7 linked regions of the Homo sapiens genome follow. The protein of the gene in region 5 interacts with the protein of the main gene of each other region in a pairwise test. Each region holds a gene or a part of one and is shown on either strand. Other genes may lie near its edges.

What was found.
Region 1: the proteins of MGST3 (region 5) and SNORC interact in binary tests that used the Homo sapiens proteins (3 or more experiments, as listed by UniProt).
Region 2: the proteins of MGST3 (region 5) and FAXDC2 interact in binary tests that used the Homo sapiens proteins (3 or more experiments, as listed by UniProt).
Region 3: the proteins of MGST3 (region 5) and NKG7 interact in binary tests that used the Homo sapiens proteins (3 or more experiments, as listed by UniProt).
Region 4: the proteins of MGST3 (region 5) and TFRC interact in binary tests that used the Homo sapiens proteins (3 or more experiments, as listed by UniProt).
Region 6: the proteins of MGST3 (region 5) and ARL6IP6 interact in binary tests that used the Homo sapiens proteins (3 or more experiments, as listed by UniProt).
Region 7: the proteins of MGST3 (region 5) and FXYD6 interact in binary tests that used the Homo sapiens proteins (3 or more experiments, as listed by UniProt).

The regions. Positions count from the first base shown.
Region 1 is NC_000002.12:232,873,264-232,876,231, reverse strand, and holds part of SNORC (protein SNORC isoform c precursor), read right to left. Parts: intron 778-2,968; exon of another isoform or gene 735-777; coding exon of another isoform or gene 677-734; intron 639-676; exon of another isoform or gene 427-638; intron 401-426; exon of another isoform or gene 293-400; coding exon 110-292; intron 1-109. UniProt on the Homo sapiens protein: Plays a role in the regulation of chondrocyte maturation and postnatal endochondral ossification. May inhibit cell growth stimulation induced by FGF2.
Region 2 is NC_000005.10:154,819,604-154,823,103, forward strand, and holds part of FAXDC2 (fatty acid hydroxylase domain-containing protein 2), read right to left. Parts: intron 2,975-3,500; coding exon 2,869-2,974; intron 1,824-2,868; coding exon 1,657-1,823; intron 870-1,656; coding exon 713-869; 3' UTR 1-712. UniProt on the Homo sapiens protein: Promotes megakaryocyte differentiation by enhancing ERK phosphorylation and up-regulating RUNX1 expression.
Region 3 is NC_000019.10:51,371,120-51,374,143, forward strand, and holds NKG7 (protein NKG7), read right to left. Parts: upstream 1,536-3,024; 5' UTR 1,417-1,535; coding exon 1,260-1,416; exon of another isoform or gene 1,189-1,259; coding exon 1,042-1,188; coding exon of another isoform or gene 956-1,041; coding exon 821-955; intron 717-820; coding exon 658-716; 3' UTR 501-657; downstream 1-500.
Region 4 is NC_000003.12:196,075,591-196,079,090, reverse strand, and holds part of TFRC (transferrin receptor protein 1), read left to right. Parts: intron 1-1,968; 5' UTR 1,969-1,991; coding exon 1,992-2,027; intron 2,028-3,500. UniProt on the Homo sapiens protein: Cellular uptake of iron occurs via receptor-mediated endocytosis of ligand-occupied transferrin receptor into specialized endosomes. Endosomal acidification leads to iron release.
Region 5 is NC_000001.11:165,651,734-165,655,233, forward strand, and holds part of MGST3 (glutathione S-transferase 3, mitochondrial), read left to right. Parts: intron 1-244; coding exon 245-302; intron 303-2,545; coding exon 2,546-2,618; intron 2,619-3,500. UniProt on the Homo sapiens protein: Displays both glutathione S-transferase and glutathione peroxidase activities toward oxyeicosanoids, as part of cellular detoxification as well as synthesis of bioactive metabolites.
Region 6 is NC_000002.12:152,728,620-152,732,119, forward strand, and holds part of ARL6IP6 (ADP-ribosylation factor-like protein 6-interacting protein 6), read left to right. Parts: intron 1-3,500.
Region 7 is NC_000011.10:117,870,159-117,873,658, reverse strand, and holds part of FXYD6 (FXYD domain-containing ion transport regulator 6 precursor), read left to right. Parts: intron 1-3,500. UniProt on the Homo sapiens protein: Associates with and regulates the activity of the sodium/potassium-transporting ATPase (NKA) which catalyzes the hydrolysis of ATP coupled with the exchange of Na(+) and K(+) ions across the plasma membrane.

The sequences.
Region 1 (2,968 bases), on a different chromosome or scaffold from region 5:
GACCATGTCACCTGCTAGCCCCCGCCTGGCCGGCCCTTCTCCCCGCGCCCCCCGCCCCCCGCCCCTCCTAATTTCTCCCTCTCCCCTCCCTCCCCCGCCCCGCCCGTACCGCCGCCCTGGTCCAGCCGCTCCTGCGCGGTGCTGTCCTCGGGTCCTGGCGCGACGGTGGGGGCTGGGGGACCGGTGTCCACGGGCTCCCGGCCGGGGCTGGTGCTCTCCACGGGGCCTTCTCCCGACGGCAGCTCGGCCGGCTCGTTCCACAGCGTGGGCACGGGCTCCTGTGGAACATCGTCTGCAAAGCCAAGGAGAGGTGCTGGGGCCCCAGGTGACGGGGCCGACAGGGACGTCACCCCCCACCTCTAGGTTAAGCAAGTTGCCGGTAGCGCTGTGTGAGGGGTCTGGGCTCAGCGCTGCACTAGCCCTCACATTTCCCAGGCTAAGAAGCTGAAGCCAGTGCGTTGCTGCCTCCCATTGGGCAGGGCCGGTGGGTGGGCAGGAGGAGTGTCTGTTCAGTGTAAGGGAGGTGCCCCCCACAAAGCCCTTCTCTGCTTATAGGGTTGGGAGTTGGCAGGATTTGGGGTACCCAGGGACCAGAGAGCAGAAAGGAGACATTCTCAGTCCCACAGAAAGCACAGGCTGAGACGCCTGCATGATAACCCCCGCCCTGTATCCTCACCAGCCAGCCCACCCCAGTTGTCCTCCCCTGACCACCACTCCAACCCTGGGCCATCCATCCCCGGCAACCAGACAGGATGCCCCAGAAACGCTGGAAAGCTCAACATGGGGATGGTAGGTCGGCTCTTGGCCTCTCCAGCCCAGCCAGACCATCTGACATCACAGTGTTAGCAGGGCAGGCCTGCCCATGTCCTAATCTCTCTCTCTCTCTTTTTGAAACAGAGTCTTGCTCTGTGCCCAGGCTGGAGTGAAGTGGTACAATCTCGGCTCACTGCAGCCTCCGCCTCCCGGGTTCAAGCAAGCGATTCTCCTGCCTCAGCCTGCGGAGTAGCTGGGACTACAGGCACCTGCCACTACACCCAGCTAATTTTTGTATTTTTAGTTGAGACGGGGTTTGCCATGTTGGCCAGGCTGATTTTGAACTCCTGACCTCAGGTGATACACCCGTGTCGGCCTCCCAAAGTGCTGCGATTACAGGTGTGAGCCACTGCGGCCGGCCCCATGCTCTAATCTCAACTGGGATAGAGACTGTGATCCAGGGACACTCGACCCTCAAGCCGGTTCCCTGGATGAGCTTGGGGATGTCCCAACACCTCATCTCTTTGACTCCAGCTACTCTGTGGTGTGGGAACTGCTTTTATCCCCATTTCAGAGACAAGAAAGCCAAGGCTTGGGGATAAGGTGCCGTGGTGGTGAGCACAGGTGGGCTGAAGGCCTTGGACAGTTGCAGGAGCGGTTGTGCTGCCCAGAAACAGTGCAGGGAGGCTGCCGTTCTGTGAACAGACCCTGCCGGCCAGCCGGCGACCCTAGGGCACCTTTTGTCCCTGCGGGTTCCATCCCTGAGCGCTGGGGCAAGAGTCAAGCCAGACACTTGCCCTCCTCATAGGTTCACCAGCACCCAGAGAGGCGGATGCTCGAGAAGACACAGAGGTCCTTCCAGGGTTTTCTGGCCAGTTGTGTCCATCTAGGGCAAACCACGCAGAAACATCAGCCAACCCAGACTCAGGGTCAGTCTTAAAGTAAATGGGCCTTCCCAAATGTCAAAGTTAGGAAAAACAAAGAAAGGCCGAAAGGTTCCAGATCAGAGACTAAGGAGACAGCTCAATGTTCCTGGACGGGGAGGGACAGGCCTGTGATCGGAGACTCAGGTCCGTTGGTGAAGTTTGAACAGGGTGTGGCTTAGGACTGCCTCAGTGCTCACTTCCTGGTTTTGATAGCTGACTCTGGTGTGTTAAGAGAATGTCCTTGTTCTTAGGAAGAATTTAGGGGCAAAGGAACATGACTTCTGCAACTTACTCTCAAATGATTTCAGCATTCAGATAGAGGATTCAGCAATGTAGCAAAATGTTGGCAGTTGGCAAGACTAGGTGGATGGACTCCTGGAGTTCATTGGAGTATTTGTGCAACTTTTCTGTAAACTTCACATCTTTCCACAATAAAATGTTAGCAGGTCCCTGGCTTCTGGGCCTCTCTCAAGCCTGGAGAGGTCAGTTGCAAGGCTCAGCTCTGAGACAGCTTGCTGACCTTTCACCTGACCTGCCACATTCCCCAGGGCTGGCCCAAGGCAGAACCCCTTTCCAGAAAAGACCTCTGGCAGGAGGCCCCATGGGTGGAAGGCCCATTGGCCCCCAACTGGGGGAGGCTTCCCTCCCGAGGGGCCCAAGGCTGCACTGTAGCACTGATGTCTCTCTAGCCTCCCGCAAACCTTGAAGACCACCCTGAGAGGAGGGGAAGTGACCCAGCCAGGCCTCCCATGTCGCAGCCAGAAAGGCAGGGGTCTGCAGCCTTGCAGTCCCCATGGAAGGCCCCAGGCCCCTGGCGTGCTGCCTCAGGCTTCTGGGGGCTGGGCAGGTAAAAGGCCTGAGTGCGCCCACCGCCTGGCAGGCACCAGGGTCTAGGCTCACTGACTGCCTGAACATGTCCAAAGAAATGGACAAATGACACACCCAAGACAGACTGGCAGGTAGGCACCTCCCTGCATCTGGAGGCCGCGGCAGGGCTTCTGGGTACCAGGCCCAGCTGAGCCGGGTGGCATCTGCGGGAATCAGCCGAGGAGTGGCAGGCCTCCAGCCCCTGAGAAGGCAGGGCTCAGTACCCAGGCCAGCCCAGCAGGGGTGAGCTGCCACCCTTGACGGTACCCTCTGAGCAGGGCAGTGGGGAGCCCCACTCAGGCCCTGTCCCCATCTGTCCCCCGTGACCCAGCCTGTCTCTGCTGCGCCCACCACCAGACATACCTGCCCTGGCCTCCTCCCACTGTACACAGCCCCCTCCTGTCCAGCCAGGCCATGAAGCT
Region 2 (3,500 bases), on a different chromosome or scaffold from region 5:
GTCTGCACCTCGTTGGTTTTAATCCAGGGAGGAGCTCCTGGATTTCTTTTTCTCCCCCACAGAGGGAAACCTTTTGTTTGCGGTGGGCCAGAGTTAAAACGGGGCCTTTACCACTCACTCAGAGTGTTTGGTGTGTGTATGTTTGTGTGTGTGTTGGGTGAAGTGGCGACTGGCATCTGGTATGTCATGAATTGAGACCTATAATGATTTGCCAGGGTGTCTTGGCTCTGGCCTGAGTCGGGTATGTGAAAGCCTTTTGGGGCAGGAAGGGGCAAAGTGATACCTGGCCGTCCCACCCTCTGGTCCCAGAAGGAGCTCTCGCTGGAGCCAGGCAGCCTCCAGTCCCCCTCCTTTCAGCCTTGTCATTCTCTGCATCCTGCCCAGGCCACAAAGGAGTTATCTGGGGCTGAACCCCTCTCCTTCCACAGCAGAGGACCAGGGGTCTCCTCCCTCTGACCAGCCTCCAGTCTGGGGAGCTGTGTTTTCCTTTTTCTTAAGCTAACTCCTGATCCCATTGAGGGACATCAAGGGCAGTAGTTTGAAGAAAGCCTCATCCTTGGCCCTGCTTTTCCGGGAAGCCGACCTTCCCTCTACCCTGGTGGTGCCATCATTAGGGCGTGTGGCCGAAGGAGGCAAATTGTTAGGTGCAATCAGGAAGCCGTGTCTGCATCCCATGGCTGAGGGACAGCCAGGATGACACTTAGGCTGTCTCTCACTCCATCCTCTTTGGGGAGTCTGGGATGCTCTCAGAGAGCGGGGTGAAGCCCAGCAGGAGGACATGTCTCTCGTAGGCCTTGGTCTGCTTGAACATGGTGTCAGTCCCATGGAGGTGGTCCAGCACACCCAGCACCCCATAGCACTGGTTGAACCTAGAAGAGAGAGGACGGCACTGCAGTGCCCATGCTGGAGGCTTCCGTGCAGATCCCATTTCATTTGTGCCAGCCTCACACATTTCTCAGCCCTCCTACCCCACACCTGTCACCACCATCCTGACCATCTGCATCAGAATAAGCTGGGGAGTTGCTACCAATGCATCTCCCGGGGGCCACTCCAAACCTGCAATTTGCCGTATCTGGAGTCCTCCTTTGAAAAGCTTGCTGTGTGATTGATGCCCACAGTCTGAGAATCTCTAGCAGAACTAGGCTTCTTCAGGTATGAGATCACCAGCATCAGAATCCCCTGGAACACTTAACTAAAATGCAGGTTTCCAGGCCCTGCTCCCCCAGATACCTTAGTTCAGCATATTTGGAGTGGAATTCAAGAGCCTATATTTTAAACAAGCATCTCAGGTGATTCTGGTATAGGAGGTTTGTAGACTACACTTGAAAAAGTCTGGGGCTTTCAGAGATACATGACTTCCTTGTGATTGCCTGCAGGAGTTTTATGCATATATGTACTTTTCTAAAGAGAATGTCCAGAGCTTATTCAAAGGGCCCAGAGTCCAAATAAAGGTTTAAAACCCCCAGTTGGAGGAGGACCCAATTTCAGAAGGAAAAGAGTAAGGTCATCCCAGTGTGGTTATTTTCCCAGCCATCAGACCTCTTCCCCAACTAGCACTCACATGTAAACTGAGATACCAGTGCCTGCTATCAGAAGCTTAAGGAGGGAGGGTGATGGTTGTTGCCTAGGGACCCATTGTGGGGAGAAGGTCCTTACTTGAGATGGTGGTAGTCGTGGAATTCAGGCGAAGGCAGGAAGGGAAGGTGGTAGCCACAGTGGGAGATGGTGGTGATGATGAGGGCCAAGGAAAACCACATGGTGATGGAGGACAAGTGGGAGCCCATTACTAATGGGCCCACTATCACCGGTAGCATGTTGGAGACCTGCAAGAGGAGGGATGATTGAAGGCAGGGTCCAGGGAGATGAAGGGACTTAGTTGGGTATACACTTAGTCCCAAGGTGGTACCAGAGGCAAACTTCCTTGACCCAGATCTGGAGAAGGTGAGAGTTTCGGGACTTTGATTTGTTGAAGGCATTCACCTTTGTAACTTGGGACAAATTACGCAGTTTGAGCCTCAACTTTCTTGTTAGCAAAATTAAGATTAAAAAGGTTGTTGGAGGAGCCAGGTGTGGTGATTCATGCCTGTAATCCCAGCAATTTGGGAGACAGAGGTGGGAGGATTGCTTGAGGCCAGGGGTTCCAGCCAGTCTGGGCAAAATAGCAGGATCCCGACTCTACAAAAAAATTTAAAAATTAGCCAGATGTGGCCAGGTGCGATGGCTCACTCCTATAATCCCAACACTTTGGGAGGCCAAGGCGGGTAGATCACGAGGTCAGGAGTTTGAGACCAGCCTGACCAACATGGTGAAAACCTGTCCTACTAAAAATACAAAAATCAGCCAGGCGTGGTGGCACACGCCTGTAATCCCAGCTACTCAGGAGGCTGAGACAGGAGAATGGCTTGAACCCGGGAGGCGGGAGATTGCAGTGAGCCGAGATCATGCCATTGCACTCCAGCCAAGATGACACAGTGAGACTCCAGATTTGGTGGTGCACACGTGTGGTCTCAGCTATTTGGAAGTGCACACGTGTGGTCTCAGCTATTTGGAAGACTGAAGCTAGAGGATCACATGAGCCCAGGGGTTGGAGGCTGCAGTGAGCTATGATCACACCACTGCACTCCAACCTGGGTGACAGAGCAAGACCCTGTCTCAAAAAGAAAAAAAGAAAGTTGTTGGGATGATTAAATGAGACAACTGTGTTAGCACTTAACATAGCCTGGCATATGGAAGGCTGACAATAAATGGTAGCTATTTTTAAATGGGAAGAAAAAGGGCCGGTGTGGTCTAAGTTCTCTGCAGGAGACCTTCAGGAAGGTGGTTGGGGCCATCTGCCCTTTGCTCTGGGGAGCATAGAGCTCTACTCACTGCATGCTCTATAGGGTGGGCATAGAGAGAGATCACGCCAATGGGAGCTGTCCACTCATGGTGTTTCTTGTGGATTTTCTTGTAGAATGTTGGGTGGTGAAGGAGCCTGGGGAAATAGTTAATAGTTAATAACCTGCTGATTCCTCTTTCTCCCTCCCCGACCAGACCATGAGAAACCAAAAATAGGAACTAGGGGTTACATCCATGGAGCAAAGTTAACAACACCAAGACCTGCCTTCAAATTTCAACCCCAGCCCTTATACTGCATAGTTTGGGAGTGGGTTGCTTTGCTTCTCTATGCCAGTTGTATTCGCTGTAAAATGGGATGCTGCCCAGAAAGGACTGAATAAGGAAATGAATGGGAAACTGCCCTGGCTCCCACACAATCAGAGAGGCCTTTTCTCTTTTGGACATTCATTCCTCAGTTGTCCCAAGTTGTCAGTTATGAGACAACTAGTGGTCTCCCTGTTAACTATTTAATGGGACACTTGAGGCCAGGGAGTATTTTACTGGCCTACACTCAATTCAGAAGCCTGTTCCCTTTTATTTTTTTTCTTTGAGACAAGGTCTTGCTCTTTCGCCCAGGCTGGAGTGCAGTGGTGTGATCACAGCTCACTATAGCCTTGACCTCC
Region 3 (3,024 bases), on a different chromosome or scaffold from region 5:
CGTCTCCATCCCTCCACAATATGGTCAGTCTTTTTCCGGCATTCTCCCTGCACTGGGACTGCTGTCTGGCCTGTATTAACTGCTTCTGGTCTGTAAGTGCCTCCTCCCCACCACCCCACAGACTGAGCCCCTGCTGGGCAGGGCCTGGGTCTGACCCGTGCCAGTGTCCCCAGCATGGGGAAATGTGCAAAGAGAACTGACTGAGTGCAAGGAAGGGCTGAGTTCTGGCAAGGGGGACAAAATCAGAGAGGGAGAGAGAAGGAAAGAGAGCCAGCTAAAGGGAGAAAGACACAGGGAGGAAGAAAAGTGCTGGAGAAGGGGAGACATAGACACGGGTTGGAGCCTGTGTCCACACGGGCCGGGCACTCGTACTGGGCAGGAGCGCCCTGCAGGCTGGTCGGCCTGGTGGGCCCTCACCTTCCCTTGGTGCCCAGCTCCTACCATGGAGCTGGCAGACAGTTGGCTTATGTCTTGGCAGAATTAATCTCAAAATAACCAGATTCCAGCCAAATTTTGTTGAATGAATGAAGAAACAAGAGGAGGGGCTGGGGAAGGGCTGGAAGGGCGGGCAGATGTGGGACCAGACTTTCCCGAGGCTCCAGATGAGGCCTTTGGAATACAACGCTCAAAACTCATCTTGCCGCTCTTGCCTTCTGCTCACAAGGTTTCATAGCCAGGACGGGGACCGCCACAGTGAGCACCCAGGCTCAGGGCACCTGGGGAGCCAGAAAGAGTTTAAGCACTTGCCCCTGCCCTCTGTCCTCAGGGACCCCAACTGGACCCTCCCAAAGCTCCCCAGGGCAGTGGGCAGGATAGTCACCTGTACAGAGCAAGAGGATAGCTGAGACCCAGCCCAGGTAGAAGGACCAGGAGAAGAAGGTCTGGATCTGGGGGTGTGGAGGCTGGTCCCACCGCTCGCTGGTGTACACCGCCATGGCCACCACCATGGAGATGGCTGGGGACAAGGACAAGAGAGATGGCTCAGCTCCTCGGCAGGAATTCGCTGGCTCGCGATGCCCCAGTCCAGTCCAGAGTCCTTACCTGCAGCAAAGGCTGCGGTGGTTGAGACAAGCGGGCCGTGGCCTGGGGGGAACAGTGAGGGGAAGCAGGACAGGACCAGGAAGCTCACGGACACCAGGGCCCACAGAACAGCCATAATGCTGAAGGTCTGCGTCACGTGGATGTAGCCTGATCGGGAGAAGACCACTGAGCACCCATCCCCGCTGGCAACCCCTCTGTAGGACACCCATTCCCCTTACCTGATATGATGTCCCCATGCCCTGTTGGCCAGAGGCCCGAGTGAGCTGAGTGGGTGGGACCCACAGCCTCAAACCAGAAATCGGTGCTCAAAGCAATCAGGCAGAACATCAGGCCCAGGGAGCCCCCCAGCAGGGCCAGGGACCGGCAGAGCTCCATGGGGATAAGCTCAGGGCTTCTGGGTCCTGGAGGAGGAAGAGGCTGCTGATCAGACTCTTGAATCTCAGAGAGAAGGAGGCTGTGCACCCAGACTCCTGGGTCCTTAGAGCCCAAGAAAGAGAGAACAGCAAGCAGTTGGGGCAGTGAGGGGTCCTGCGCTTTGTCACATGAGGCTGGTTTGGTTTCACACAGTTCCCGGTAGCTTTTCACATACCCTCCCTTCCTGGATTGCACAGGCAACGTCCTCCCTCCCCTCCCTGGGGTCCAGTTCCCCGCTTAGTGTGTGATGGGGGAGGGCACTGAGGGTGTCAGATCATCAGTGGTTTGGGCGGTGGTTTAGTACTTGCCTCTGTCACAGATTCTACAACTCCCACCCATGGAACCTTCAACACCAAGTCGGGGCTTCCTGGAAGAGGTGAGAGAGAGAGGCTTGGGGGCCCTGAGGTGGGAGGAAGCCAATCAGGCTAGGGTGTACATTAAGGGGGAGGGCAGATGTGGCTGGAGGGGACAGCTGGGGATGTGTCATGCTTTCCTGTGGGTTATGCAGTCTTCCATTCTGGGAGAGGAAGTCCCCAAGTCTAGGGTCTCTACTGAAGGAGGGGACTTGGGAGTTAGAACTCCTGGGGCTTAAGGAGGAAGGAGCTGGGGGCCTGAACTCCAGGTCCTGAGGGAGGAAGAGGCGGGCAGGAGCTCAGAATCCTGGGCCCCAGTTTGGAGCATATGCCAAGGGCAGGCAAACAGCAGAGAATCACAATTCTGAAAGGTTTGCAGAGAGTCAGACATACCCACATCCTCATCTGATTAATGAGTTCAGTGGCATCCCTGCTTGGGTGGGGGCTCCAGCCTGGTGGCCTTTATCACCAGGATCGGGGGGCCTAGGGGGTGTTGGGGGACATAAGGATTTTGGTTTAGGGTTCTCCAGCCCCCCAAACGCTAGCCTCTTCCATCCACACCATCAGGTCCTGGCAACACCTCATCTACGAGCAGGTATAAGGTGACGGTACCACAGCCCAGGTAGAAGGCCCAGGAAAACTTGACCTCTGTGAAACGGTGATATGGTTAGGGTTTGTGTCCCTACCCAAATCGCACCTTGAATTGTGTCCCCATAATCCTCACGTGTCTAGGTAGAGACCAGGTGGAGGTAATTGAATCATGGGGCCGGCTTCCCCCATGCTGTTCTTGTGATAGTGAGTGAGTTTTCACAAGATATGGTGTTTTTTTAAGGGGCTCTTCCTGCCTTCGCTTGGCCTTCTTCCTGCCACTCTGTGAAGACAGTGGCTTGCTTCCCCTTCACCTTCCACCATGATTGTAAGTTTCCTGAGGCCTCCCCAGCCATGCTGAACTGTGAATCAAATAAACCTCTTTCCTTTATAAATTACCCAGTCTCAGGCATTTGTTGTTGTTGTTGTTGTTGTTTGAGACAGAGTCTCACTCTTGTCACTCAGGCTGGAGGGCAGTGGCAAAATCTCGGCTCACTGCAATCTCCACCTCCCAGGTTCAAGCAGTTCTCCTGCTTCAGCCTCCCAAGTAGCTGGGATTACAGGTGCCCGCCACCACACCCAGCTAATTTTTGTATTTTTAGTAGATTTCAGGTTTAGTAGATTTTCG
Region 4 (3,500 bases), on a different chromosome or scaffold from region 5:
GGCTCACGCCTTCGATTTCCTTGGGATGTTCTTATCAAGTAACTAATCTTAGCACTTTGGGAGGCCAGGTGGGTGGATCACCCTAGGTCAGAAGTTCCAGACCAGCCTGGCCAACGTGGTAAAATCCCGTCTCTACTAAAAATACAAAAATTAGCTGGGCATGGTGGTGGGCACCTGTAATCCCAGCTACTCGGAGTCTGAGGTGGGAAAATGGCTTGAACCCGGGAGGGGGAGGTTGCAGTGAGCCGAGATCCTGCCATTGCACTCCAGCCTAGGCAACAAGACCGAAACTCTGTCTCAAGAAAAAAAAAAAGATTATGCTTCTAAGAATATGGTCTATTGCATATGGACACTGGTTTTTAAAGCTTGAATTTAAAAAGAATTTTTTGTAATAGGTTTTAGAGCTTTTTCTTTTTCTTTTTTATTATTTTTTTGAGATGGAGTTTCACTCCGTCACCCAGGCTGGAGTGCAGTGGTGCCATCTCGGCTCACTGCAACCTCCACCTCCCGGGTTCAAGCGATTCTCCTGCCTCAGCCTCCCCAGTAGCTGGGATTACAGGTGCCCACCACCACGCCCATCTAATTTTTGTATTTTTAGTAGAGATGGGGTTTCACCACCTTGGCCAGGCTGGTCTCAAACTCCTGACCTCGTGATCCACCTGCCTCGGCCTCCCAAAGTGTTGGGATTACAGGCATGAGCCACCGTGCCTGGCCAGAAAGCTTTTTCTTAATGCCAGTTATAATACCCTTTGCTTTACAATTTGCGTATACCTCACAGCTTGCTTTGTGCCGTGTGTGTTTAATATGCCCTAAGTGTACTCGTATATAGGAAAAGCTTTAAAATGGTATCCAATAAATGTCCATTTTGCAAATCTCAGGATAATGTCATTTTCAAGTATCTAGATGCCCTCAAACCAAATTAACTGGAAAATTCAGATTTCAGTTAAGGCCTTTAACTTAACTTAGGACTTTGATTACAGAGATGTATTTTGCTTTGACAAAAGTTAAGGTTAATGTCTTAAATTTCCAGAGATGATAACACAATTTCTATAACCCAGTAACCCATTTAACTTCGCTTAGATTATCAATTTTCAGCCTTGAACAGGCCACTTAGTTTCTCTAATAACTGGCCTCTTCATCTGTAAAACAGCGTAATCTGTGTTTCATGTTTCTTCTTGTGTCAAAGATCGAATCACTTGTAGGAACTATTCATTCAGTCAGGATCAGTATTTCTTCCCCTTCCCATTGGAGATGGTTTGTGGTATTTGTAGCATAACTGGTCTTGTCTGCCTTAGTCTTAATTTTGTCTTTTTGTATGTGTCACTTTCTTTTTTTTTTGAGACAGAGTTTTGCTCTTGTTTTCCAGGCTGGAGTGCAGTGGCGCGATCTTGGCTCACTGCAAGCTCCACCTCCTGGGTTCACGCCATTCTCCTGCCTCAGGCTCCCGAGTGGCTGGGATTACAGGCGCCCACCACCACGTCCGGCTAATTTTTGTATTTTTAGTAGAGACAGGGTTTCTCCATGTTGGCCAGGCTGGTCTTGAACTCCTGACCTCAGGTGATCCACCCATCTCAGCCTCCCAAAGTGCTAGGATTACAGGTGTGAGCCACCCCGCCCAGCAGTATGTGTCACTTTTGTCTACTCAGAACATAGTGGTTCGTACTTATAATTGCAGCACTTTGGGAGGCCAAGGTGGGAGGATTGTTTGAGGCCAGGAGTTCAAGACCAGCCTGGGCAACATAGGGTGACCTTGTCTCTACAAAAAGAAAAAAAAAGAATTATGTATATAACAAACTTTAAAAAGGATCCCACTTAATTTAGTTGTCATGTAAACTATGGTTAAATACCTTTTCTAGAAAAGTGATAATGTATTTTAAAAATTTAATGTATCATTTAGCCTGGTAATAGAAAGCTCACTAATCTGATACAGTAGTATCTTTCTCAATAATTCTCTATTCTGATACCTAGGTTCTTCTGTGTGGCAGTTCAGAATGATGGATCAAGCTAGATCAGCATTCTCTAACTTGGTAAGATATTTTCAGTTGTATTTCTGTGTCTGCAAGAATGTGAAATATACAAGCATGACTTTAACTGAGTAAGCATGAAATAATAACCCCAATCTATTATCAGGTATTCATTTACATTTGAATTGGTAGTCTTGAGGCATAACTGATCTCACAAAGAGTTCAGCCTTCAGTAGGGTTAATTATGGAAAGTCTTGGAAGAATTCTCAGAGTGGTTCTGGGTGTGGTAGACGGGGACAGCTTAGTAGATAAGACGAATTAAAGCCCTGATCAAAATGTTTTAGTAGGAGAAGTAAAAAGCAAAGGCTTGCGGGGCGCTGTGGCTCACGCCTGTAATCCCAGCACTTTGGGAGGCTGAGGTGGGTGGATCACCTGTGGTCAGGAGTTCAAGACCAGCCTGACCAACATGGTGAAACTCGGTCTCTACTAAAAATACAAAAAAAAAAAAAATTAGCTGAGTGTCATGGCGCATGCCTGTAGTCCCAGCTACTTGGGAGGCTGAGGCAGGAGAATTGCTTGAACCCGGGAGGCGGAGGTTGCAATGAGCTGAGATCACGCCATTGCACTCCAGCCTGGGCAACAGAGTGAGACTCCGTCTCAAAAAAAAAAAAAAAAGCAAAGGCTGAATGAGGCCAAGTGTGGTGGCTCACTCCCGCAATCCCAGCAGTTTGGGAGGTGAGGCAGGAGGATCACTTGAGGAGTTTGAGACTTGCCTGGGCAACATAGCAAGCCCATCTCTATTAAAAAAAAAATGAAATTTTAAGAAACATTGAGTAGACAGTATGAGTGAAAGCTGAAAGAACATACAAAAAAAACAGCCATCCAGGCCATGACGAGAAGGAGCCTAACTCTTAACACTCTGTCTAGACCTCAATTCTCTCTTATTTGTATTTATTTATTTATTTATTTTTATTTTATTTTTTGAGATGGAGTCTCAGCCTGGGCTCTGTTGCCCAGGTTGGAATGCAGTGTGCAATCTTAGCTCACTGTAACCTCCGCCTCCTGAGTTCAAGCGATTCTCCTGCCTCAGCCTCCTGGGTGGCTGAGATTACAGGCGTGCGACACCATGCCCAGCTAGTGGTTTTTTTTTTTTTGAATTTTTAGTGAGAGGGGATTTCACCATGTTGGTCAGGCTTGTCTCAAACTTCTGACCATAAATGATCTGTGTGCCTCGGCCCCCCCCAGAGTGCTGGGATTACAGGCATGAGCCACTGTGTCTGGTCTATTCTCTCTTTTCTGTCTTCTATCTTATGCTTAGTCAGAATTTCTGCTTATTTATAACTTTGTTTTATTCTTGCTCCCTTGCTCCCACCAACATCATGGTCTGGGTTACTGCATAGTATCCTGAACTGATTTGTGCCCCTAGTCCCAGCTACTCAGGAGGCTGAGGTGGGGGAATCAGTAGAGCCCAGGATTTTGAGGCTGCAGTGAGCTGTGATCACACCACTGTACTCCATCCTGGGAGAGAGAGGGAGA
Region 5 (3,500 bases):
TCTCTACAAAACTTAGCCAGGCATGGTGGCACGCACCTGTAATCCCAGCTACTCAGGAAGCTGAGGCATGAGAATTACTTGAACCCGGGAGGCGGAGGTTGCAGTGAGCTGAGATCATGCCACTGCATTCCAGCCTGGGTGACAGAGACACTCCGTCTCAAAAAAAAAAAAAAAAAAATTCATAATTCTACACAGGCATACTTAAAAAGGGCACTTTTTAAAAGTTTCTTTCTGTCAATTCCAGGTTGGAAGTGTATCCTCCCTTCTTATTTTTTCTAGCTGTTGGAGGTGTTTACCACCCGGTAAGTTTTCCAGGAGGTGTTCATCTATTTGGATAGTAGTTCACTGAGCTATTATCAGGGACAGAAGAAGGAAATAAACATTTAATGAATATCTTCAGTGTCTAGGCACTGCATATTTAAAAGGATTTTATTCAATTATTTCTTACAGAGTTCTTTAAAGGAGATGGGATTTTCCTCATATTTTACAGATAAGGAAAAGCCTCTCATATACTATTTAAACTTCACAAGGTCAAATAGCTACAGAGTAGAAGGATTAGAATTTGAACTCAGGTCTGTCTGGTTCTAAGTTTCATGTCTATAAGAGTTCATTTGTTATAGTAATTCATTCACACAACAAACTTTCACTCACCACCTGGGGTAAAGCAGTGATCAAAGCAGACAAAGACCCCTGGTTTCATAGAGCTTGCCTTTTTGTTGTGGGGTGTGGGGTGGTCACAGAGAAGAAGCAACCTAAGTAAATTACATCATGTGTTAGGAGGTGGTGAGTGCAGAGAAGAAAACAAAGTGGGGAAGGTGGAAAGGGGATGTGGAGTGGGATAATTTTGAATAGGGTGGTCAGGGAGGGGGGCTTTGCTGAGATGATAGTTAAGCAAGTATAAAAGGAGGTGAGGGAGCAGGTGCTGCACGAGTTTCCCCAACCTCCAGCCAGAAGACAAGCAAGGCCTGAGGCAGGCACCTGTCTGGTTTGTTTGGTGAGCAGTGAGAAGCCAATGGAGCCAGGAGAGGGGCAGCAACAGAGGGCAGAGGGGTGATGAGGCAGGTCACTGGGGACTTGCAGGCCTCTGCAGTATAGATAGCCCTGTGGGATGGAGATTTAGTCTGCACTTAAACATATCTAAATAAAGCAAGTTTATCAGCCTCTAATTAATTGCCATTTGGGTCTTGTCTTAGACAGAAGTGTTCCCCTTTTCTGAGGACAGATTATCTCCTGAAACCAAGTTCTGACCAGAGTGGCCCTTCAGACTTCTGGTTCTAAGCCTTTCCTAACCATCTGGTTCATCCTGAATGCCTTGTACTTTTGTTAAAAAGCTGCCAGAATGGCATATCTACTGCTTATGACCTTGAAGGCCTGCATTTTTTTCAAAGAAACATCTACTGCTCTTGTATCTCTTAGAAAATGTATCTTTCTGGTGCCTCTAAAGATCCCCATTCCTAGCAAGTGACTAGACTAGCTGATCTGAATAGCTCAGGTCTCTAGATTAGTCCTCATTTGGTGTCCCCACTCCATCCCCATTCCTATCACACATCCCTGGATCCCATTCCTTATGGGTAGTTCTGAAAAATAAGAGCTAGTTTGGGGACAAGCACCTAACAATTGTTCCTAGGTTGCCAGTCATTAGGCAACATTATAGTAAAGAAGGGCCTGGCAGAGACTAGAGCTGCTATATCGTGACTTGAGGGACTGGTGTTATTTTCATTTGTTTCACCCTCCTGTTGACATTTAATGTTACCCAAAATCAACTCAAACAAACAAAAACCCTGATGCAGTAACCTTATCCCTAACAGTAGCACTGCTGAGTGGGAAAGACACTGGGGAAGGCGGCCTTCTCACATGCTGTCTTCTGTGTTCTCTCCTTGCTTATTTTAACCAAGGAAGTCACCCCAGCATGACAGCCAAAGGGATGGATTTTTCATCTAAGTTTTTATTCTCTCTTCTCAAGGACATTGGGAACAGGGAGACTTTTCCCTCGAAGACCATGTATTCTGGGAGAAGCGCTCCCCTTCTTTCTAGTGGAGCTACACCCCCAGTGTAGCCTGCAGAACCACCTGAGCCCAGCCCTGCCAGTGACTGACTTCACATAGAACAGCAGCTGAGTCTTCAGTCAATCTCATGCTCAGAGGCCCATTTGAGAAAACGGCATTTCCCCTAGTCCTGACTTTGGGGCAGTTCTCTTTTCTGGCCTGCCCTGAGACCGGCTGGCCCACATGTCCTTCTCTTGAGCTCTGACACAAGTTCCCCAAGATGCCCAGGGCAAGTGGGGGGATTCCTTCTATCCCACCTGTCTAGGAGAAGGCCAATACTCATCTCCCAGGTCCACAAGCCAAGCCATTCATAGAAGAATCACAGATATTTTATTTTCCCGCTGAAACTAACTTAATTCTACCTAATTTGCGTGGGGAGTAGTTGGCCAAATCATCAAATTGTTAACTTTTTGCTAACATATTGTGTAATCAACCCTAGGTGTTAAAAAAGGTTTGCTTGTTTCTTTCATGCAAATACTAATGTAGCCCTTTTTTCTTAGCGTATAGCTTCTGGCCTGGGCTTGGCCTGGATTGTTGGACGAGTTCTTTATGCTTATGGCTATTACACGGGAGGTTAGTATATATTGACATTTGCCAAGGAAACAACTTTAAAATTTTAAATCCTATGCTGGCCAGGCACAGTGGCTTACACCTGTAATCCCAGCACTTTGGGAGGCGAAGGCAGGCAGATTGCTTGAGCTCAGGAGTTGGATACCAGCCTGGGCAACATGGTGAAACCCTGTCTCTACAAAAAATACAAAAATTAGCCGGATGTGGTGGTGCACACCTGTAGTCCCAGCTACTTGGGAGGCTGAGGCGGGAGGATTGCTTCAGCCCAGAAGTTTCAGGCTGCTGTGAACCATGATTACACTACTACACTCCAGCCTGGGAGACAGAGCAAGATCCTATCTCAAAAAAAAATAAAATCTTATGCTACTATATTTTTTTTCTTGGGAATTTGAGAAAAGGGGAAGTCACCTGATATTTAGGTGAAAGGTCTGTTTTCTTTTTATTAATCTTTCAATTGTAACGAAACTTATTTTTATTGAGCATTTTCTATGTGCCAACCACTACTCTAAGAACTTTGCATATGTTATTTAACCTTACAACAATTCTGTAATACAGATATTATTGCATTTTACAAATTAGGAAACTGGGACTCAGCATGATTAAAGCTGTAGGTCACAGAGCTACTAAGCGTAAACTAGTAAACTAGGAATCAAACCCATGCAGTCCGACTCCAGAGCCTCACCATTACTATACCTCCTATATCTGAGTAAGGAGGAGGAAAAGCCATTTTTAGCTGTACTTCTTTGAAACAGAGGGAACTCCTTCCAAAGGTCCTAGAGCAAAGTTGCTGTAATTATTATCCCATAATTTTCTAAGATCCAAGCAATACTACTGTGGCACGTTACTTGGCATGTGGTATCTGACTTGCCAACAGCTTCAGGCTAA
Region 6 (3,500 bases), on a different chromosome or scaffold from region 5:
AAAATAAGCCAAAACAAATATACCCTTAGATAGGTGTCTATAATATTCCAGCAAAGGGATTGGGATAGGAAATTCCTACCCATCCCTGTTTTTGCTTTGGATGAAAACAGTCTTAAGAGGTTTCAATTGATGGAAAAGATTAGTATACATCATTTCATTGGCCAGACGTGGTGGCGTCTGACTGAAATCCCAGAACTTTGAGAGCCCCAGGCAGGCGGATCATGAGGTCAAGAGATCAAGACCAGCCTGGCCAACATGGTGAAACCTCGTCTCTACTAAAAGTACAGAAATTAGCTGAATGTGGTGGTGCACACCTGTAGTCCAGCTACTCTGGAGGCTGAGGCAGGAGAACTGCTTGAACCTGGGAGGCGGAGGTTGCAGTGAGCCGAGATTGCGCCACTGCACTCAGCCTGGCAACACAGCAAGATTCCTTCTCAAAAAAAAAAAAAAAAATTAATATACATCACTTTGGCTGGGCACAGTTGCTCACGCCTGTAATCCCAGAACTTTGGGAGGCTGAGGCGGGTGGAACATGAAGTCAGGAGTTCAAGACCAGCCTAGTCAAGATGGTGAAACCCTGTGTCTACTAAAAATACAAGAATTAGCTGGGTGTGGTGGCAGGCGCCTGTAATCCCAGCTACTTGGGAGGCTGTGCCAGAGAATTGCTTGAACCTGGGAGGTGGAGGTTGCCTGGGTGGCAGAGCCAGACTTTGTCTGTGTGTGTGTGTGTGTGTGTGTGTGTACACACATATATGCACACACATCATTTCATCAACTGATGAATATTGAGCTGTAGAGAAGAACGAAGGATGTGTGTATTTATTTAAAAGCCTGCAACCTTTGGTAGCAGTTATTCTGGAAATTTGTAACATCTATGTCCTTGTACAACTGTACCCTTAAATACAAGAATGTTCCTTGGAGCATTGTTTGTAATAGAGAAAAGCTAGAATTAAAAAAAAACACACACACAACAGAACTGTGGCTGTGGGTGCTGATAGGAAAGGTCTCCAGAATATGTGAAAAAAGCAAAATGCAGAACCATTTTTCTGGTGAGAATCTCACTTGTGGAAAATAAGCTGAGAAGATATATATACGTTTTATATATAACTAGCTTTATATATGTACCTGTATTACCTAGATATGTATATAATTTTTGGAAAGATGCACACCAGACTCTTAGCTGATCACTTTTAGGAATGAAATTGGCAAACTGAGGAAGGAAGAATTTCATTTAATATGCTTTCATTTTTATATTCTTTTTAAAGTTGTTAATTCTTTCTAAGGGCTTATAAAACATCAAAATTTTAGCATGAGGATTCTGCAGGTACTGACTTGTAAAAAATTTAGTTGTTGGGGAGTTACCATTTTCTGTGGCTTTTCTGCTTATTTGCAAATGAATTAGGTAATTTCCCGAATCATAAACACTTCTAGACCACAATATTGCAATGTACTTTTTTTACCCCTATCATTGTGACCTGACTTACCCATGATGCAGCTTCTGATTAGTTTAAAATGAACATAAAATAATAAAAATGCTCAATGCGAAGTAAGTACTTAGATTGTGGAATAGTAATTTTGGAAAAACTCAAGAATATTCTTGTATTAAATTTGACAGGTACCCTATTAAAGCACTCAAGTGAAAAAGTTCAACAGGCTTTAGAAAGCCTCACATTTGATTATTTTTATGTTACTTTGTGTCTTTCCTCACTTATCTAGAAGTTTCATCGTTCTATAGCAGTCCCCAAACACTTTATTTTTCTTAACTATCATCTTTGTTCTGGAGAAGTATGTTAAACTTTGAGTAAACTTGTCAATTATTTTCTCCCCTCTTTAGACATAGTCATCTAAATAATAGCAAATAACAGCTATTTGGCAGTATAGCAACCCCTAAGTTGTAGTTGTAGACTAAATCTTATAATTTTTTTTTTTTACCCTCTATCCTGATAGATTGGTAGGAAGGTTATTCTAAGGTTCTGTTCACCCAATTCCAGGTTGGGTTGAGGTGCTAGAGGTGGATACTGTGCCAGGATATTGGGGTGAAGGTGCAGACTAATCCTCAAGACATTTGCTATAGTGAGTATTGAAGTATCTTTTATTGTGGTCAGGATGGTGTTTCAGATGTGGCAACTTCCAGCCACATGACCATGTGGTGTTTCTATGCCAGGCTTAGGGCAGAGGCATCTGCAGGCTTGGCTCTGTACTTACCTACCAAGATACTGTACACAGCTATACTCCCTGTGTGGTTTTGCATGGGCTTTTCTAGATGCTTTTGTCAGGAAGCCCCAGTAGCACTACTCCCTTTCCCCATTTACACACATAAGTGCAAACATGCATACAACCTACTTTATTTAAACTAAGGAAATCTTTCTCACTTGTCGATAAGCCCCTCACTCTCTCCCTGTTCCACACAAACATTTTATCTGTACTCCAATCAACTCATTGTCTTTGCTGTGCATTCAAGACATATTGTGTTTATCCACACTCCTATCCCTGATTATATCTGTACACTGGTTTCTGTAAATATTGTGCAATGTAAAGTAGAAAAACAGGCTATTTCTTCTTTCTGCTTTGCCACATCCCTCTTCTGGAGAAATGAACACAGAGCCCATTAGCTCTTTAACAGGTGGGAGATGGGAGGAGGGAACTATCAGGAGATATAATTTACCACACTTTCTATTAATAATTCTTCTGAGTCTGTACTTTAACAGTTTTTTCAGTCTGTTACTGAGCTTCACAAGATTTACAAACAGTCCATTGCATGTACTTTTTACCTGCTTCTTGCTAAAATAAGACTGGTGGATAATTTGTATAGTCAGGAAATTTGATAATTCGTAAGTCATCTGCTAGGGTTCTCAACTCTTCCTGTATTCTTGAGGCATGGAACACACTCTCAGAAACCTGTTTTAAAGACGCAGTTTAAAAATGAGTCCACAAAGATTCTGATACGACCTCCTTGCTGCTCCTCTGTTCAAAAAGTACTACCTGACTGAATTTTTTTATTTTTTACAAATTTACTTAGTTCTATTTTGAATAGGTAGAATAGTCATATGGGTCAAAATTCAAAAAGTGTAAAAGAGTATAGACTGAAAAGGCTTACTCTTTTCTCCCAACCACTCTTTCCTCCCTCCTCAGAGAACCAATGTTAAATTCTTACATCCTTCCAGAAATTTTTTAAAATATCTAAGTACAATATACATTTCTTCATATATACAACATATGTATATATGTATGTGTATAATACATATTTTCCCCTTATTTATACAAATGCATAGAGCTGTTCTGAACTTTCAGTTTTTCAGCTCACCAGTATATTTTCAGGATCTTTCCATATCAGTACCTAAAGAGCTTCCTCATTCATTTTTATAGCTGCATAGTATTCTATTGTATGGATGTACTTAATTAACCAATCCTTTACCTTCATTACTGATAATTTAGGTTGTTTTCAATCTATGTTATTATGAACAAAGCTACAGAGAACAATCTTGTATATACATCATTTT
Region 7 (3,500 bases), on a different chromosome or scaffold from region 5:
GCCCCCCAATATTCACCTTCGAACAAATCACCTTCTGAGCACCCTAAGGGAAGCAAACCAGTCAAGAAAGGCACAGCCCCAAGGAGGCAGGGAGCCTGCTGTGGAAAGGCCGGGTTCTAGCCCCAGCTCTCCCCCTGAGCTTCCGTGCTACCGAAAGGCAAATGCGTTCATTGCACAAATATCCCTTTGGATGCAAACTGGGCTTCTGGTGAAATCCAGAAATGGCTTGGACTGCTCTTCAGCAACTGAAAGCCTTTCGGATTTTAGACCTTTGTTTCCGCATCTGTCAATAGTGGGGTTTAGACTCATGATTTCCAAGGCATGTCTTCCTCTAAATTTGTGTGGATTATACAATCTTGAAAGAGATCCCTTTTCTCTCCAGGTACCAAATAGTACTCATTATTTCATAATACAGGGCTGCAGCTGAGCTGAGCTGAGCAGGAAGGGGCTGGGCTCTGGTTACCCTGGAGAAAGTTTCCTTTTCACCCAGTGTGGCAGAAGGTGCCCTAGAAGCTGAAACCAAGTTTTTTTCTTTAGGGCTGAGGGAGCCACCTCCTCCTGGATGCTGTGGTCTACCTGGCCTTTTCTACCAGGCTGCACACTGGAGGCGGGCGGCGGTTGGGGGGGGTTCTTTAAAGAGTTGTTCTCTGGAAGAGACAACTGGAGAGGACTGGGCTGTCATTTTGGAGGTCCATGAAATCTTCTGCAGGGAGAACCCCTGGCCAGCTGGAGAGTTGCAACGAGAGGGGCCGGTCGGGAACACAGTGCTCTGACACCGTCCCTGATGAGAGGCAGGACATCTCCGGCCGAAACAAAAGCATGGAACCAATTTGGCAGCATCATCTCTGCTCCAGAATCCGGGGAGGGAGAGGTCCCGACCTGGGAAGGGATGAAGCCAGCTTGTAGGCTGCGCAGGAACATGTTTGTTACAAAGATGTGGGAGGGAGCACACAGCCTGGGAAAGGGGCTGGGCCCCCACGGACCAGGCTGGGGCCATGGGAATGGGGCTGCCCCAGCTCAGAATATCTGATGTGGGCAGAGAGGGCCAAGGATGAAGGGGTGTAGTTAGAATAACAGTGACCCCCACGCAGCTGGAGGACAAAGCCAGGCCCACACTGAGAGACCAGAGGCTAAGGTTTCAAACTCCCTCGTTCATCCTTTTAATAAATGTTCCCCTCATATGTCAGGCAGGCCCTGTGGGCTTCTGAGGTTTCTCCTTTGCTGGAGCCCTCCTGCTCAGGTAGATCAATGGGCTTGTCCTGTTCCTTCCTCTCCCCTACTGTCCACCTCATGTCCACATCCTACCAGGAGGCCCTGCGACTTTCTTCCTCCATAGGAAGAGCCCCTCCATGCAATCACGGGTGCACTTACACTCTCACACACGTTCCCTTCCTCACACATATATAATCTCCCACACCCGACAGGGAGGCAGTGGCTCACACATTCTCACACGCCCTGTCACCTCTCCCGAAGAGCTGCAGTCTCTCAGACCATGGTGATGGCCTGTGAACGTCCACCCTCTCAGCCCATTCCATTTTACCCACTGATGTTACAGCTCAGGTCCAGGTTTGCCACTCCTCTGCTCAAAAACCTCCCCAGGCTCACCAGTGCCTATTAATAAGCACAGGTACATGGTGTAGGCACTCCAGGCTCAGCGTGACCTGGCTGCAGCCACCTCTGCAGGCACCTTCTCCAGATGGTCATCCGAAGCCTGGTACTGTCTCACCCTCTGCCTGAGCTCAAGCCGTTGCTGGAATGTGCCGAGTAGAGGGTGGCAGTCTTTGTAGACACACAAACTTGGATTCTAAACTGCATTCTGATGCTTCCTGGATTTCTTCACTTTGCTAAACCTCAGTTTCCTTACCTGTCAAATGAGTGTGAGGACAGTATGAGGCGAGCTGTGTAAAGGGCTCAGCATGCTGCCTAGCATGGAGTAAACACTCAGGAGATATCAGCTGCTGTAATAATGATAGTAATGACACATTATTAGGATTATTAGAATGGCATTATTATTGTTATATCATCCTTCGTGGCTCCTCCCAAGTGTTTATTCTTTCAAGTAATTATTCCATATTCCCAATAAACAGGCATTAAAATTCCCAATAAACATACTCATATACCGTGAATGTCCTGTCAGTTCTTCCTTGAGAGCACACACCTGCATTTTAGCTGCAGAGGGACACGCCCCGCCTCCCACCCCGCCCGCTCCACTGCACCGCCTCTCAATGGCAGGTCTGTTCTCCCCACGGTGCCTGGCACAGTGTCAGACACGTGGAGAAAGCCCAGTGAACAGCGTGTGTGCTGTGACACGCATGGGGAAGAGTCCTCATCACCAGGAGGTGTAGACACCTAGTCGCCCTTCCCGGCTGTCTCCCATACGCCGGTGCACACCACGCGTTCCCAAGATGCACATCCCTTTATTACCGTGCGTCACCTCAGTCTCCCACTTGCTTTGGTAGAGTCTAGAAACTAAGAATTTGACCCCATCTGAGGTCTGAGAGATGCTTAAAAGCTGAAGTCAAAGGAGAGAGGCTGATTCCTCACAGCATTTTGGTAGTTGGGATTTGACAGAGACACAGAGATTAGAAATGAGGCAATGGAGGAAGGAGGATACCGAGAAAGTTTTAAATGCCTGAAAAATTCCCTACAGATCCTTTGGTTGTTCTGAGCTTAGAATGGATTTGATGTAAAGGGATAATGATGCTGAAGCGTCCTTTCATTCACACATCAACATTTATTGAGCAGCTGCTGTGCTCAGTGCCAGGGATCCAGAGATGGCCAGAGTGTGCCTGTGCTCCCAGGGAGCTATGGTGTGATGGGGGCATACACTGGTGACAGCCCTACATGGGAAGGGGTGTAGGCCTTGGCTCTGTGGGTATGAGGATGCATTGAGGGGAGGGAGGGGATAATGTGTTTCCTGAAACAGAGACAGAGTCAGGTCAACAGCCCCCTCCTCTAAAGGCAGGGCACATTTCTGGGTATCCAGGCCCGTGGGTCAGGGTTCATCTTCATGCCACTTCTACCCCTAAAAGGGAGACAATATGAAATTGTGCAAAGTGCCCTGTAGGCTGAAACATGCAGGCCAGAGCTGTCCTTCTAAAGAGGTAGGCAGAGAGAGCAAAGGGGGCTGCCTGGTGCTGTGGCCTGGCTGTGGGCAGGGTGGCGTGGGCCTGGCTTCTGGGTTCCTGGCCCTGGCAGCTGCTCTGGGTTTCTGTGTCTGCTGCTGGGACTGCTGTCTGTCCTGTCTTGAATGGGCCTTTGTCAGCAGGTGTGTGGGGGAGGTGATCCCATCCTGGCCTGACTCCATCACGCCCTGCTGGGGCGTGCAGCCTGCTGGGGCCCCAGCCTGTGGCTTCTGTGCAATACCACTCACCATTCAGACTCTCTGGAGCCAGACCGAGATCTCCTGGGGAACCAGAGGGGCCTCAGCCCCTGTGCTGGCAGGCAGGAGGCCTGAATCCCACTCTGACTCCCTCTGGGCAAGGCGCGGCATTGGCCTG